Linked DNA regions of Homo sapiens: all the other regions are linked to region 3. The links come from fine-mapping of genetic effects on gene expression. A gene starts in region 3. Each other region holds a variant in brackets. All regions are shown on one strand. Distances are from middle to middle. Region 1 has its middle 100 kb from the start of UCHL1. Region 2 has its middle 120 kb from the start of UCHL1. Region 3 holds the start of LIMCH1 (LIM and calponin homology domains 1).

Region 1 (5,592 bases), 180 kb after region 3:
TCTCCTCTAGGAGTCTTCCCAAACACAGTTAGATGTGCAACCTGTTCCTACAGCTATAAAAAGTCACTAGGAGTGTTAAAGGGCTGTCCCCACGTGGTCTGTGACCATCTAGTGCTCCGTTAGAGCTTTCACCTTTGCCAACTAAGGAAGGAGTGAGGGGAAGGGGGCTGAAGTGGGGGAATCGTTCCCAGGCCACATTTCCTGCCCAGTAACACGGTCCTCAAATAGCCAAGGCTGCACGCCGAGAAATTCCTCACTAACAAGTTACGTCCTGGATCTGGTTCCCTGAGCCTTTATTAAGAATGAATGTTTTCTTGCCAATCCATGACTCAAGGAAGACCAAGAATCGAGGCGAGACAAGCAGCAAAGTTTGTTTATTAACTTGCTCCACCCAAGGGAACATTTTTATGAAAGGGTGAAATTCCTGACTACTCAAAAAGAAGAAAGAAAGAAAAAAAACCTATGGGAAATTTAATCACCAACTGAATAAAAGTAAAAACAAAGCCCTACCAATGAGGATGCTGCCAGAGACAATGGGGCCCCTAGAGGAGTTGCAATTGTCTCGAGATACCAATCCCCAATCCGCCCCCCCACCCGGGGATTCACTGCCCCTAAGTACTACATTATTGCTGTATTAGCTGAGGAATCTTTGTTCACAAGGCAACTGCATGCAAAACCATCTGTTACAACTTCTGGGTTCCCGTGGTTTGCAGACTCGGCATTTACATTTCAAGAAGAACCTCTGGGAAGGAAGGGGGAGGTCTCTATCTTTCCCCTGGAGCAATTACCTTTTTATATAGCCTGGGAGGGGGAAGCTCTCCTTTCCCTGAAACTGAACCCAACAATTGAAAGGAGATAGGCCACTTCAATAATGCACACGCAGCTCGCCTGGGCTGCCTGGTCCTAAAGCCACGCATGCCCCATTACGGTTTTCACATTCTTAAATTGGTATGAATGGTAAAGCATCAAGAACAATCCCAAACTGTCTATAGGGCTTAATGAGGTTCTACTGTCTTAAGGAATCCCTTCTTCCTTTTCTTAAACGTGATATTAAAGCTAATATTCTGCACTGCATAATAGCCTGAAATATACTACCACTTAAAAGCAAACTGTAATCTGGGCCAAAGGAGACATTTTGTATCTTGATTTAGGTGGGGGCTATAGTAATATACATATGTCAAAATTCATGGAGGTGTACACTTCAGATTTGTGCACTTTTACATGTGTAACTCATACCACAATACATTTTTAAAGCAGAATATGTCAATGATACAGTTAAGGAAATTGAGAATAAATCACTTGCCTTCAAGAATAGTAAAGACTGTTCTGCTTCTAGATCCTCCCCTTACCCCCACCCACACTCGAAGTCTCTCCTGAGAATTTTAGAGTTCAAGAACCTGAAAAATAGTTATCCAACTCTGCAATAAGCCAGTAACTACAAATGCTTCCTGTGTATCCTGGGAGCATAAGTACGCAACACAGGCAGAGCACCTGTCACACGCCAAACCGTTCCAGCCACATATCAAAAATAAAAAGCCAAGGTCTTTTTCTCATCTGATGGTGAGTTATCAAATTATGAGACATGCCTGGGGCTTTCAGCAAGACAGCCCTGATGTTCATTGTTCTGTTTCTTGAACCCTATTTTCAAACAGATGTTTCTATACTCAAGTAGCACTCTTGCTTGCGGGAAGCAGGTTAACCCTGTAGGGTACAGGTCTCTGGCTGGAGCAGGAGAGCAGCATTAAGTGAGGGTGGTTTCTGCAGGAAGCTCAGCAGGTTTAAATCTGTACGTGGAGCTCTTGTTACTCTAGCAGCTTCTTGGGAACCACAATGCTGAACGGAGTGGGGAGTCACTAAGTGACAGGCGGAATTCTGGAAGCTTCAACATTGCTGGGTCATGATTTAGCGATACACTTCCTCCTCTGAACTACCAGGCAAAGAGGGCTGCTTGTCACTGAGGGAAACAAGGCCAAATTCATACCTTCCACTAAGCCTCCAGAAAGGCCACCCATTGAAGCTGAGGCTCCTTGCACTAATCATAGGGGGTCACCTTTCCCCTTCATGCCCTTCAAGCGTCCTGAACCCCGCAGACAGTTCATTTCGGGAGCTCGGGGCTACCAAGCTGCATCTACTGATAGACATCGTGAATCAGGATCACCCAG[T/C]GAGCGCTTCCGGGACTGAGAGCCGAGAGCTCCAGTGATTTCCCTGGCCTGCCAACGAGTTATTTAAGAAGTGAAATATGCCAACCAGACCGGGTAGCCCGTACTTCGGAACCGACCCTGCAGTCCTTGGGATGGAGAGGGGCGGGGGTTGCCAAAGGCTGGGCAGCGTCTATGCGGATGCGTGCTCGCAGGTGGGTCTTGCAAGCTACCCCCGCCCTGCGCACTGTGCCAGCCTCACACCTGACCCGGTGCCAGGAATACAGCAAGAGGCTCCGGTGGGTATGCGCCTCCGTGAAGACACTGCCAACTCTGCTCCGGAAGGGTGCGGGGTAGGGGGACAAGGGGCGAAATGTGGGACCAGAAGCAAGATACCCCGAAATGCGAGCACCGGTGAAGTCTCTGGGGGCTCGCGCTTCCTGCGCCTTTGCAACGCTTTGCTAGCACTGCGCTTCCCTTGGCAGCGCCTGGAAGCGGCGCTAGCTGAGATTTGCGAGGCCAGCGGGCAGGAAGGATGGACGCGCAGGGGATCCCTTCCTGCCCTCACGCGCGCAGCTAGACTGCAGTGTCCCCTTTCACGCCCACCCTCGCCCGGGATTCCAATGCCAAAGCGCTAAGGTTTCGCGGCTCGCCGAGGCCCGGGGGGGTGACCTGGAGCAGCTGGCAAAAGAAAGTGGGGGCGGTTGGGGGGAGGCAAGGCTGGACCTGCGGTCGGAGCGTGCGCGGGTCCGTGGCTCAGGGCGCCAGTGCAAGGCCGCCCGCCAGCCACCCGCACCTACCTCAATCCACTTCTGCGCCTCGGAGAAGGCGGGCTCGGGGGGCGGCTCGGGCTGCAGGGGCTGAAGAGCTTCCAGACCGAGAGCGGGACAAGCCATTTGCGCAGCCCCGCGTCCTCTCAAGCGCCGGGATGAGGACGGCCGCCGCCGTCGCCGCCGCAGGAGCGCGCTCCCCGCCCCTTCCCGCCCGCCGGCCTCCCCTCCCCGCCTCTCCCCGCCCCCGGCCGGCGCAGGTCCCGGGAGAGCCGCGCGCTGCTAGAGGACGCCGCGGCAGCTGTTCCCGGCGCCGCCCGGGCTCCAACGCGCCGTGAGTGACCCGCGGGAGCGAGCGCGGAGGCGCCGGGAGCTTCTTCTCCTCCCCACCTTCGAGGGCCGCTCCGCCCCCGGGGAGGGGGAGCACAGCTACGGACTAAAAATAACCCGGAGCGAGCGCTGCGTGTCTCCCTCCCGTTCACACCCGGCCCGATAGAGGGAATCCGCTGGCCGCCCCGCACGTCCCTGCGCCCCGCCGGCTGCTGAGGGGCGGGCGGATGGGTCTGGCATCATATGGGAGACGCGCGCCCAGTGGGGCGCACCCGGGCCCGGGGGAGCGGGCGCTGCGGCACCGGAGCAGTAGGACGCGCGGGCACTGGCCGCGCAGCACCTGCAGTCCTTCCTGGCCGCAGAGGTAGGGGCAAGGCGGGGCAGCCCCTGGCCCGGCGCCGGGAAGTACACAGCCACCTGATCTTTTTGTAAGAAGAAAAAGAAAAACGACCCTGATGAGCTTTTCTTCTCCAGGAAGGCTACCTGTGTCCTAGTCTGTCGATGCAGTCAACCAACAGTCACTGTGCACCTACTATGCGTCAGGCACTGGGCCAGGCGCTGGGGACGCAGAGATGGAAACACACACACACACACACACACACACACACACCCTACACACCCTACCCACACACACCCTACCTGGAAGTCCTTGCCCTCGAGGTATCTACATTGTAGAGGGAATTGGGGGCCGGGACAGACAATAAACATGTAAATCAAAAGAAGATAATTGTGGCGGGTGTTGTTAAGATAAAAGAGGAGAAGATAATGACATGGAAAGAAAAAGCGCGGGGTAATTTCCGATAGCCTTCCCCCCTTTTGGCTGGGAGGCTGACCTGTGAGTCGCGGTTCCATTAACGGGAGGTAGGCAGATGGTCAGTGAGCTGAAGAGAGACGTGCATTTATTTATCTCGTCCCTTCCTGCAGGTGGTTAGGGGGTTTCCAGAAGGTTCCTCATCTCCTCTTGTCCCACTCAACCTCCCAGGCCTAGGTATGGTAAAGGCTTCCCCATCCCATAATGGTCTCCCGATCCGGCTCACTTCTTTCTAACCCTTCCTTTAAACTCTCCTTGGCCACTCCCACTTGAGCATGCCTTCTGTTTTGCACTACAGCCCAAGTGACGATCAAGGAAGGTGTCTGTAAGGAAATGTCCTGAAGAGGTGACATGAGTGAGGGAGATTTAACTGTGTAACAATTTGGGGGAAGAATTCCAGATGGATGCCAAGGCCTTAAGGTAGGAATGAGCTTCCCCGTGGAGGAGCCCACAGCGGGCCAGCAAGACTGGAGCTGGTGTGGAGAGCACCAGGCGGGAATGATAGCATGGGAGAGGCAGGCCAGGTCCCGCCTGCGGGTGAGGGGGCACACACTACCTTTTAGATTGTTGCCTGGGTATACCCTGGTAGGCCACCAGGGAGCTCTGACCTACGTGAGCCCAGCGCTGGGTCCGGAGGAGCTCAGTATTCTTGGCCTAACCTCAAGCTAATGGATTCCCCTCTTCAGAATGGCTGCTAACAAGAGGTTTCTGACGGTGGCTGGAGGTCCCTGGGTGCCTCAGCCTCTAAATCTCTGTTCCCCATCCAGAATCCGAGTTTAATCTTTGTCCAATTCTGCTGCTATAATAGGGGAATGGAACAAAAAGCAGGCCTCAAATTCCACCATTACCAGCTTTGGAGTCAGACAGGCTTTAGTTTATTTGCTTTGAAAACACTTACGTGGCACTTATACTGTGCCAGGCACTGTTCTAAGTGCATTACAAATAATTGACTAACTCAGTCCTTATTCCAGCTCTGTAAGATAGGACTGTTATCATCCCTACGAGGAAACCAGGGGACAGAGCTGGTGGACAGGGAGGGTTGGATTCAAGCCCAGACAGCCTGGCGCCAGATTTGCTCCTAACTGCACACCAAGCTGTCTTACCAGTCCTGTCCAGACTCCCACTTACAGTGTGTCCCTCAGTTTCCTCACCTAAAATGAGGTGGATATAGTCATCCAGCAGAATCATTGTGAAAGGCACGAACAAGGGGACTGAATGTAAACAGACCAAAGCTGGACCTGACAAACAAGCAGTTGCTGAGTACAGACCACTGATCCTCACCTCCACCCTGCTGTCCAAAACAGAGGGAGGGAAAAGTATACAAAGAAGAGATAAAGAAGGCAAGCATGGGAAAGGGCTAAAGACGTGTGGGCAGAAGATGACCTTGTTTCCATAAAGAAACATGGCAAAGCAAACAGTCCACAAAATGACTCTGGTACACTAATACAATATATGGCTTTGGGCAGTGATATGATCTGGCTCCATGTCCCCACCCAAATCTCATCTTGAATTATAATCTGAATTGTAATCCCTACATGTTGAG
Region 2 (5,592 bases), 170 kb after region 3:
AAAAAAATCCCTTGGTCAAACACCAAAAATAAAACCTCAAAATTTCTAATAGTAAGGACCAAAGCTTCAAAAATTAGCAAATCTACTACACTTTAAAAACACAAATGTCAAAATGCCAAACAGTGGCAGAGATTGAACAACTATTCTGGGTGGGTAACTTGACACCATACCTAAACACTCTTACTCATTTTTCTTAGATAACATAGAAAACTATATAGAAACTATAATGGCAAGTACATTTCGTTCTATTAACAAAAAAGACAGAAATGTCTTCATTCAGAAAGTAACTCCATAAAAGAGATACCTTTGGGGAAAACTTTATTGGAGACTTGAATGTTGAATAGGATAAATAAGAAACTCATGTCAAGGGCAAATGTTCTAATCTCAAAAAACATATTTTCTACATACTTCATTTTGCTGTTCTGTATGAAACTATTTTGTCAAATCCAAGAAATCTAGAAAACTGTCATTGGAATCATCACTATCCCCTCAAAAAAGAAAAAAGGAAAAATCTGCCCAAGAATTAGCAAAGTAACCTGTGAGCTTTCAAGTATCCTGACTCCACCTAAGCTGCCCAACCAGTTTTTATTTTTACTCCTCTTTCCCGTACTCGCCCTGGGTAGGACCCAGCTGCGCTGTGCCAATCTGGGTCACTCAGCACAGAGGATCAGTGGGCGACAGCCGCTGTATCCACTTTTAGAAAAGCCCCACATGCCTGGGGACTGCTCAGGCACAGAGCTGCACACCCCCTGGACCCGGAGTGTCCGGTGAACAGCAACTGCATGGTTTTGCTATTTCTAGGCTTCAGGCTCCAAAAAATAGATATCTTTACCTGAGAAATATGAAATTAAATGGGAAAAAAATCAGATACTGGTATTGGATACTTTAATTTATAACATTTTTTTAAAGTTACAGTAATTCAGTGTAAAGGTTTATATATATTGGGAAGAAAGGAGAGTTGAAGTACCCAGGATGAACATCTTTATTTTTTTAATCAACAGTTTAAAAATCAATCCAGTTCATTCAATCACATTTTTACACCTAATAGAACCCATTAGGTATGGGTTGGGCACTTGACATTCAGTGATACCTCTAAAAATAGCACTGTTCTAGTCTTATAAAAATAGGAGTAAAACAATCTATTAATGCCTCTTTTTAACCACTCCCAGCTTATAATCTTATACTCACCTCCAAGAAGTAGTCAGTGTTCTGAATAGTTCATTTTAATTATTTCCTTCCTTCCCTTATCATCTGTGTGTTCTTGTATATTACCACATTTTTAATAAAATGTTAGTAACAATTGGTGGTAGCCTCTTTGGCATCCACTTTACCCATTCTTCTACTAAAAGTACCCAGATTTTCCTCTAGGGAATTCACTGCTTCTCTGTTGGGTAGCAGCCAGCATCTTTGATAGGGACGGACCAGGGTGAAGTCTGATTGGCTTAGGCTAATCAACTCATCTATTTCCCTGGTGATCATGAATGAGAATGTGTCCTCTTTCTCTGCCCAGAGGGTGTAAAGAGAACTTGAGGACTGGAGTCGCTCTTTCCCAGCCAGCCTTTAGTGGAAAAGCCTGGACCTTCTGAAGTGGGGTAGGGCAGGTGTGGAGGCCCTATGTAAAGCCAGAGCATAAAGCCACACAATGCACAGCACGGTGGAAAGAGAGAGAGAATCCAGATCCTTACTGATATCATTGAGCTGCTGAGTCAGCCTTTGTATGAAGTAGGGATCTACCTCCAGAACGTCAATGAGCAATCAACTGTCTATTTTTTAGAGCCAGTTTTGGTTGGATTTCTGTTGCTTGCAACCATAAGAATGCTAACTAAAACAAAAAAAAAAATTGAATGAAAAAAATTATTAAACACACACACAGAGTTTAAAATAAAATAAGAAATACATTTTTAAATATATCATACTACTTACAACTCTTGATGGAAGTTAAAAATGAGTGGCCTATCATGTCAGAGCAATACCAGGGTTCATCAGGCTGCTTGGGAACCAGAGTCCCCATGCATTAGAATGTGGGGTTTGGGAGATGCCTGGAGCACTCTTTCTATACAATCACTCTCCTTCCCAGGTGGCAAAACTGTCAAGGTGAGAGGACTTATTTTTGGAGTTTCTTTTAAAATACAGAAAACATGTCTAAAGCCAACACTGGCCTCCAGCATCCTTAGGCATCCCCTACCTCTACCCTCCTGCCCCCAGCTCTTTACTGCTGTTCCCCCTCATCAATATCCCTCACAGACACCCTTGGTCAACAGCCTGCATTTGCACCCTGTATTAGTCTGTTCTCACACTGCTATATAGAACTACCTGAGGCTGGGTAATTTATAAAGAAAAAAGGTTTAATTGGCTTACAGTCCTGCAGGCTCTACAGGAAGCATGGCTGGGGAGACTCAGGAAACTTACAATCATGGCAGAAGGGGAAGTAGGCATGTCCTGCATGGTAGGAACAGGAGGAAGAGAGAGCAGGGGGAGGTACTACACACTTTTAAACAACCAGATC[C/T]CGTGAGAGCTCCCTCACTATCTCAAGAACAGCAAGGGGGAAATTTGCCCCCATGATCCAGTCACCTCCCACCAGGCCCCTCCTCCAACATTGGGGATTACAATTCAACATGAGATTTGGGCAGGGACATAAATCCAAACCATATCACACCCCATAGCATGGTGGTTAGGAGCACAGGTAAAGCAGCCAGACTGCATGAGTTTGAAGATCAGCTCTACCACCTAATGACCGTAAAACCCTTAGCCATTCACTCATTTCTAGGTTTAATGGGAGTAATAAGAGTTTGTAGCTAGCTCATAGGATGGTTGAAAAGTCAGGTGCTTAGGACAGAATTTGCCAGGCCATAAGCTCTCATAAATGTTAGCTATGTTTCTATTCTTTTGTCAGGAACTATAGTAATTTGAGAGAGTTTGGAGAAAATCCAACTGCTGTCCTCCCAGACAAGGCCAGCCATGGCCCAGGCCGGGCCAAGAAGCACGGAGGATTCCTATCTTCGGTGCCAGGACCATGCAGCTTTCCTGCAGCCCACTCTAGCTTCATCCTGCACCTCCCTCATACCTACTCCCAAAGCTCCTGCCTTACTGGTCTTCTTCAGCTCTTCCATTAAGGCAAACACTACAGCCTGAAGTGTTTGCCTAGAACATGATTTCTTGCTCATTTTTGCATGGCCAACCCCTGCTCATCCTTGGGGTCTCAGCTTACATAGCACTTCCTCAGAGAGGCTGTCCCATTGCCCCTTAGACCAAAGGAGATCCCGGCCCTTTTTGTGTTCCAGACCAACTTGCTCTTCCCTTTCCAAGCATGCATCACACGCGTGATTCTGTGCTCAGCGTCCATCCTTCCAGGTGGAATGGAAATCTCACATTTGTCTCTCATACTACTGAGTCCCTAGGACACGCTCAATAACTATATGATGAATGAATGAATGATGTCCCAAACGGAGACAAATTGCCAATACTCATATACTGGTGTAGAAAGGGCTCCAGAGAACAGGAATAATCGCAGCCAAGAAGTCACTGACCCTCAGACAAATTGCCAACCCTCAAGTCTCAGTTTCCTCATTTCCAACTCACTTAAGCTTCTCACTCACAATAAGTAACTCCTGTAGGTTTCCTGGATGAAAACAGTGCTGCTTTATGTAGTACCCAGGCACAAAATCTCAAAGAAAAATGGATCAGAAAAACACACACACAGACAATATTCAACTACCTCCTCCAAAGGCAACAGAAGCTTCTCCTGGAAATGTTGTCCAAGGTCTTCTGATAGCAGATAGGAAATGTGAAATTCCTAAAGAAAACATTTTCCATATGACCCAAGATCCCAGGCTCCAGCACTGGGAATCTTCAAGGTATTGTTTTATGTATGCATCTGTGTGGGTAAGTGTGTGAGAGATACTATCTGCCCAAACTATTAATATCTATGTATTTCTACCATAAAACAGTATCCATATTCCTGTAAATGTATGAATAATGTCCCAAACTAAGACAGCCAGCCAAAAACCTTGTATCCTACAAAATCTCACACTAAAAATAACAGGGCTTGTGGAAAATACAGAGTTCATGTAAAAGGCCCAAACCCTACTCAACTTTGTAACCAGAGCAGTAACAAAAACAAGAACACTAAAAATTACCAGCACACATAAAAAGATGTTTTCTATTTCCTATTACAGAACAAACGGAAGATTACACAAAAAGGTGGGGGGCAAGAGCGCATGGTGGAAGGGTGTGAGGAAAGACCGAGACTGCTGCATTATGGAGATGAGAGGAAAATGCAGAAAGATCTGGGAAAAGCAGACGTTTCAATCAACACAAAGCCAAATGGAGTCTAGAGCAAAAAGAGGGGTGTTCACCTCCCTGGCTGGTTGTGTTCACCTCTACTATCCTATTTTGTTTTCAACTACTGCTATTTGGTGGTACAAAATACGCAAGTGTTAATAAAAATCTCACATGAACCATCGCAACTTGCACCTTACCAAGCATGCTTCTCTTATTTCCCAATCGCATATGTAATAATCCTCATTACAGAAACCGACATTATAAAATAGCCAACTATATTTGTTCAGAATGCCAGAGCCTGTGCCACATGAGAGGTCTAAGAGTGGAGCTGCTGTTGGGAGGTGCCAGATGAGGCCAAAAGAAGAACTATCATGTGGGCACTATGTGGGGACTCAGGAGCTACGTGGGATCAGGCCTGCCAGTCTTAACATGGGTGAAATTTATTGAAACAGGCACAGTAGAGAACTTCAAACTGGGACGGGGGCAGCAGATACCTGTGTTACACAAAGACTAAACAGAATACCATACGCAAAGAACTAACGGTGCCTGGCAGGGAGGCACCCTAAATCCACATTTTCCTTCCCCTTGTTTATAATCATTCCAGTCTGGATCTCAGCATCAAGGACTATTTGAATCCAGTGGGGGAGTCAGGTTCCAATCAAGGAGAAAAAGACTGGGGAAATAGACGTGAAGTGAAAGGGAGTAAAAATGGTTCCACCCACTGATGATGGTTCATTGGGCTCCTGTAATGATTTTTCATCATGGTCCTAACCACCCTACTGACAATTATCTTTTAAAACATATTGAAAGGGTTCCAGTTTCAGAGAATGTGCTTGGGAGCCATATGGATGAAATTGTTTCCTCGCAACTAACGGTGCTATGTATATAGAAGATGCTCAATAAACAGCATATTGAACCATTAAGGGAATGAAGAGAGAGAAGGAGAGAGGCAGGTCACCTGCTTGGTTAGGTAGTTACTTGGGACCATGATCTTTTTAGAAGTTTCGCTTTTACTTCTAAAGGGTCCCAAATACTAACTCTGCAAAGGTACTTTTTCCAATAAGTAAATATATACGGAGCAGCTGTTAAGGATAAGGCAGCGGGACACAGCAGTCACCAGTCCAAGCTCTGGAACCAGTTTGCCTGGGTTCAAATCCCAGCTCTGCCACTGATTATCTGTGTGGCTTCAAGCATATCACTTACCATTTCCGTGCTTCCATTTTCCCATCTGTAAAACGGCCATAAACAGTGCTTGCTTGAGAAGTATCTTATATATCAGGCACTGTGCTGGGTGTTTGTTCTATACACAAT
Region 3 (5,592 bases):
CATTGGTGATTTACCAGGTCTGGGCTATAAGACATCTAGGGATAAAACTGCTACTCAAAAGCAGATCTGGCAAAGGTGAGGAAACGGTGTGAAGGGCAGGTACTGCTGAAGATCTCTAGAGTCAAAAAAGGATTCACCAAATTAAAATAGAATGTTTCACAGACCAGTAAAGCCAGATGGGAGTTGGTAGCTCATACATATCCTTGTATTTCCAAGAGATGGGAGACTCCAGACTCTGAAAGGGACCAAACACAAGCTCACCTGCTGCGGCAGTACCCAGAGCTGAAAAGAGAGGATGCCAAAGGAATCCAGCCTTCCCGAATCTACACTCTCAAGGCTGGGCTTTGGGACTCTAAGGGTCTAATAAGCTATGGCTCTTATTTTATATCATTACAACAACTGCTTTGGTTCCTTCATTCTTTCACTACTTACCTGTGCTTCTTTACATTTCACAGGTTGATGATACATTACTGCTTTGGATTTCCCTTCAGTTTCATGGTTCAATCCAATGCCCACGTCTACATTTCTTTCACTGCCTTTATACTGCTGTACAGTTAGACTTCATCTGCTACTCCACACACACACAAATCTCTCCCTACTTCCTCACTCCTCATTTCCTGTTGGGAGCTAAGTTTAAAGCTTCATCCTTCTAGATCTACTCAACATTCCTTTTTAAAAGGTAGAGAACAAGGAACGTAGCAGCTGTGTTCGCTGAGCCATTGAATTCACACTGCCCAGCAGCCCTTGAAAGTCAACTGCAGCGTCCATCAGGGCAAGGACTGACAGTTTGTTTCAACACTGAATATGGTTAGTACCTGGCAAGGAGCAGGAGTTCAATAACTCTTGGCAATAATTCGTCATCATTTTCCCCCTGAAATCCATTTTATTATTCTTTTTTTTTCTTTTCAGGCTAGAGTGCAGTGGTGCGATCTCAGCTCACTGTAACCTCCACCTCCCGGGTTCAAGCGATTCTCCTGCCTCAGCCTCCTGAATAGCTGGGATTACAGGTGCCCATCACCACACCCGGCTAACTTTTGTATTTTTAGTAGAGATAGAGTTTCGCCACGTTGGCCAGGCTGGTCTCGAACGCCTGATCTCAGGTGATCCACCTGCCTCAGCCTCCCAAAGTGCTAGGATTACAGGCGTAAGCCACTGCATCTGGCCCGTTTTATTCTTTTATTCTCAAATTATTCTCTCTACAGGACAAGAGAAGGTTTAAAAATCACTGAATCATGATTTTAGGGAAATATTCAACCTAAAAGGCAGGGCCAAAATCTCAAAGGGTCCCAAATTTATCCCAACAGCCAAAGTTCCTCCTCCTCCTCTTTCTCCTTCTTTTCCTACTCCTGTTTTTCTTCTTCTTCATATCTTGAACCACATGACAAGAAAAAAAAATCTAGACTCTTTACCTATATTAATTAATTTACTCTTCATGAAAACCACATAAGGTAGTTACTATATTATGTCCATTTTTACAGACGAGGAAACAAACGATTGTGTTGCCTGCCAAAGATCAGCACACAACTGAGAAGCTGCAAATCCAGGATTTGAACTCAGGCCATCTCACTCTAGAATGTCAGCTCCTAGCTGCCCTGCATACTATGTCCTGAAGGAGAGCTCTTAAGAAGGCCAACTGAAGCCTATGGGGAACAGTATCCTGGTCATTCATTTCCCAAATTGTTATTGAGTGTCTACTATATACCAGGTGCAGGGAATACCCCCAACAGCCATGGTCACTGTTCCTGTCTAGTCAACATTCCTGTTGCTTTCCTAATTGCCATTTGTTATAGCTCCCAGAGAGTAAGCATGCTGAATCCATTAGAAAAGGAAACTCAAGAGTGAGTTCTTCTTCCATATCTTTATCCTTTAAACTTTATTATAGAGAACAATTGCCACTCCTCTCAGCATTAGTTGGGACTCCAGCAAGAACCAGCTAGGACTATGTATCAGCCTGGAATGCATAGTTACAGAACTAAATGGAAATGGGAAAATGAATACAACGGTGTTAGGAAGTCCCTCTCTGCCCGATGATTAGATTGAGGAGATGTATTGGCAGCTGTAAGGAGGGTGGCTTATTCTTGCCCCTTCTTCCCTTGGGAAGGTCTTCAAAATTGGAGGAGTTATGGCTGCCCAGTCACCTTCTAGTCACCTTACAGAGAGAGCAGGAGAGCAGAGTGGCACATACCCTCAGGCAGGATTCCTGAGTCAAAGGCTGGCTGCTGACACTTGCAGCCTCTCGGTTTTATTTGACCTTCACCTTGTGCGGAACCCACCCGCGCAGCACAGGACAAACCCCTTCTCCCGGGACTGCTGAATCAGCCACTCTGGGAGTGGCAGGAGAGAAGTTTCAGACTCCTGAGACATTTGGTCTATTCAGCACCATGAAGAAAACGGCTGTAGCTCAGTGAGAGAATCACAATCAGGAGCTGGCTGAATAAAGGTGATAAAAATAGATTTCCCGACTCCACAAAGATGAATCATTTTGCCATAGGGATTCGCCAGGCTCTGTTTCAACCTGATTTTCAACCCAGCCTCATAAATTTGGCTAAGGAAAATTTTCTTCCCCTAGATAACCAGTGCCATGGAACGTTTAGCATTCAGACGGGTCTGACGGGATTTTATGAGACAATTGTCCAGAAATAACCCCCATTCCTTTCCCGGCCTGCAGTAAATAGTGACTATGAAGGACAAGGACTAAGTGGGCAAGGCTGGAGATGCAGCCCTTCCCTCCAGACTCCTCCCTGCCTCCCCAATGTCTTCCTTGCTTCTTTTCCTCCTCATTTTAAGAAATGGAAGTTTTTAAAAAGCAAAGGGGGCTGTGGAGTCAGGAGCAGAATGTGACAGGGGCTCAGGTGAAGCAGCCCCACCATGAATGCAGCCACATCTCCCCCACAACACCATGTGCTGCTGGACCACATCTTAAAAATGCAGCCAAGTTGCTTCTCATTCTCAAAATTCTCAAAAATCCTTTTTATTTTGACTAAACTAATGGAGTTATGTGTCTTGTACCACATACCGGAAAATAAAAAACAATGCTTTCCTTAGGGAATTAAAAAAAAAAAAAAGCTTAATTAAAAGCAACAGGTGCTAACAGTTATCAAAGGACAAGATGAATCCACAGGAAAGTAATTTTCATATTATTTTCGCCATACTAATAAGTGAATAAAAAGTCACTTTTTTTTAAACCAAGTATTAAAGTCTAAATAGCTTCCTTCTTTCCATCATGGATACCCCTAAGCATGTATTTCTTTTATAATGAATTTTACTTACCCCCACACGTCCTCATGCTCCGCAATGAACTCCAGCCAACCCACTCTGGGAGATGGGAGGGGCATCTCTCCTGTGTGCTCCTCGTCAGCCCCAGCACAGCAGCCGAAATGCCCTTACATTTCCTTTCCCAAAACAGTCGTCACCACTGCCAACCCCTGCTCTGTCCACAAGCAGGCTGCTGCGGCTGAAATGCTGATGCAGTGAAAGGGAACTGGAAGACAGCTGATTGCCACACCTATTGGAGAGGGAGGCGGAGAAGCCCATTCCCTCTGAGGAAAAGGAATGGCATCTTCAGAAGTAGAGATGCCAGGATTGGAATTGTGCAGAGAGCTTTGTGTCAGCCACTAGCACACAGTAGGTTTGCAGTACTGTCAGGAAATCTGGATCTAGAAAAAGCACCCAAGTGGGACCCGAGGAACAAAGACTCACTCCAGTCCCAACTCTGGAACAAAGTTGCTGCCTGACTCCAGGCAAGTCACTGCCTTCTGGTCTCAGTTTCCTTATTTGTAAAATAACAATGTTTCAAAAAGTAAATCTCTAAGTGGCTTCTAGTTCTGGGATTCTAAGACCATCCTAATGTTCATGAGCATAATAAAAAGTAAACTACCATTTATTGAAAACATCCTGTGTACCATCCATCATATTAGGTATTTTATGTATATCATCTCATTTAATCCCACAATGCTGAGATGGGATTTATCAACCCCATCTTATAGATGAGGAAACTGGCAAACTCACTCCATGAATCCCCATGAAAAAAAAGGATCATCATATTCCTTCAGTGTTTTGAATTTAAATGGAGGCATTCAATCTTTGTGCCTGAAATTGAGATGACATCTGAGAATGGAATTTCTGCACTGCTGGGAGATTAATGTGTTTACAGTCCTCTGCTGGTATAATTCTGAGGTACTAGTATTTATGGTTATGGCTGTTCATGCTACTGCAAAATCCATTTTCCACCTGTTGCTTTTTATTAAACCTCCCTAAAGGACATGAACTATTTCTTTCTGCAGATTCTAAAAGCAGGATGCTGAAATATGTGAGCAGAAGCATCGTGTGCGGAGTTACCATTTGGAATTTTCAAATGCTATAAAACACAATGTTTACAACCAATTCATCATTTATAAAAGTTTATTGGATTAATATGCCAATGGACTCACTGGTATCCTGCCATTTATTGACACAAATACATCAAGTGGTAGGCTGACATTTAATATTTATTAATAACTTCTGTATTTCCTTACCTATTTCATAGTTTCCTTGCATTATGCTCTTTTATCTTTATTGTCATTCATCCTACTTTAAGTGAACTTTTTATTTTAGAATAGTTTTTAGATTTATAGAAAGCTACAAAGATAATATGCAGAGTTTCAGTATAACTCATGTCTTACATCTTACATTCCTATGGTACATCTACATTTATCACAGTTAAGAAATAAACACTGGTACACTACTATTAACTAAATCCATGTTTTATTTGGATTTCATTAGTTTTTCCCTAATATGCTCTTTCTGTTTTAAGATCCCATCTATAATGCCATATAATATTTAATCATTATGTCTCCTTAACTTTTTCTGGACTTTCCTTGTTTCTCAGATATGCCTTGCTTTTGATGGCCTTGACAGTTTTGAAGAATACTGGTCGGGTATTTTGTAGAATATCCTTCCATTTAGGTTTGTCTGATATTCTTTCCATGGCTGGGGATATAGGTTTTTGTGAGGAAAAAGTACCATTCTTTTAACACTGAGGGAAAAGAGGAAAAGTACCATTCCTATATAACATTATATCAATCATCCTATTTTTAATGTTATGTTTAAGTTAAATCAAAAACTTAAACTGAATATAGTTAAATTTTAGAAAGGAAAAATTAGATATCAAACTACTCAGAAATCTAGTATTTTATACTGTGGACAGAGCGACAGAGAGGAATTAATTTTTGTACCATTTGAGATGAAGGTAGACCTAACATTCTAGCAGAAAGCCAGCTAATTACAAGAGAGGCGTCTAGCGAGTTCTTTTGAAATGCTTGCCAAGACAAACTTCCTACAAAAACAATCCAGAGGAAGGCACGTTTTAAGAGAAGTGCTGTTTCAGCCTAGCATGGTCTCATACTTCATACATTTGGTGGTATTTTTTTCCTGTTGTCAAACAACCAAATCCCTATAAACCTGGGTTTGGAATACATGCTAAGAATTAGTTCCACAGAAAGTTATCCTCTAGGTAAGCTATAACTATGGAAAAAAAGGAGTCAGACGTCAGCTGAAATATGTATTTCCTGCTATTATATATTTTTTGCTCACAGTTTGTAATTGAAGGTCTAT

What was found. PIP is the estimated chance that this variant, and not a neighbour inherited with it, causes the effect.
Region 1: its variant is fine-mapped to the expression of LIMCH1 in blood mononuclear cells (TOPMed, PIP above 0.99).
Region 2: its variant is fine-mapped to the expression of LIMCH1 in blood mononuclear cells (TOPMed, PIP 0.99).

Annotation. Positions count from the first base shown.
Region 1 is chr4:41,358,283-41,363,874 of GRCh38, reverse strand. It overlaps a transcript of LIMCH1 not described here. Among named protein-coding and RNA genes, the nearest start is that of UCHL1, 100 kb to the right of the region's middle. RefSeq lists an enhancer at 390-1,051. The variant T/C (reference allele first, on the strand shown) is at 2,163.
Region 2 is chr4:41,370,815-41,376,406 of GRCh38, reverse strand. It overlaps a transcript of LIMCH1 not described here. Among named protein-coding and RNA genes, the nearest start is that of UCHL1, 120 kb to the right of the region's middle. The variant C/T (reference allele first, on the strand shown) is at 2,507.
Region 3 is chr4:41,536,029-41,541,620 of GRCh38, reverse strand. LIMCH1 (LIM and calponin homology domains 1) reads right to left here and starts at 3,464. Exons shown (of 32, transcript NM_001330672.2): 1 at 3,271-3,464.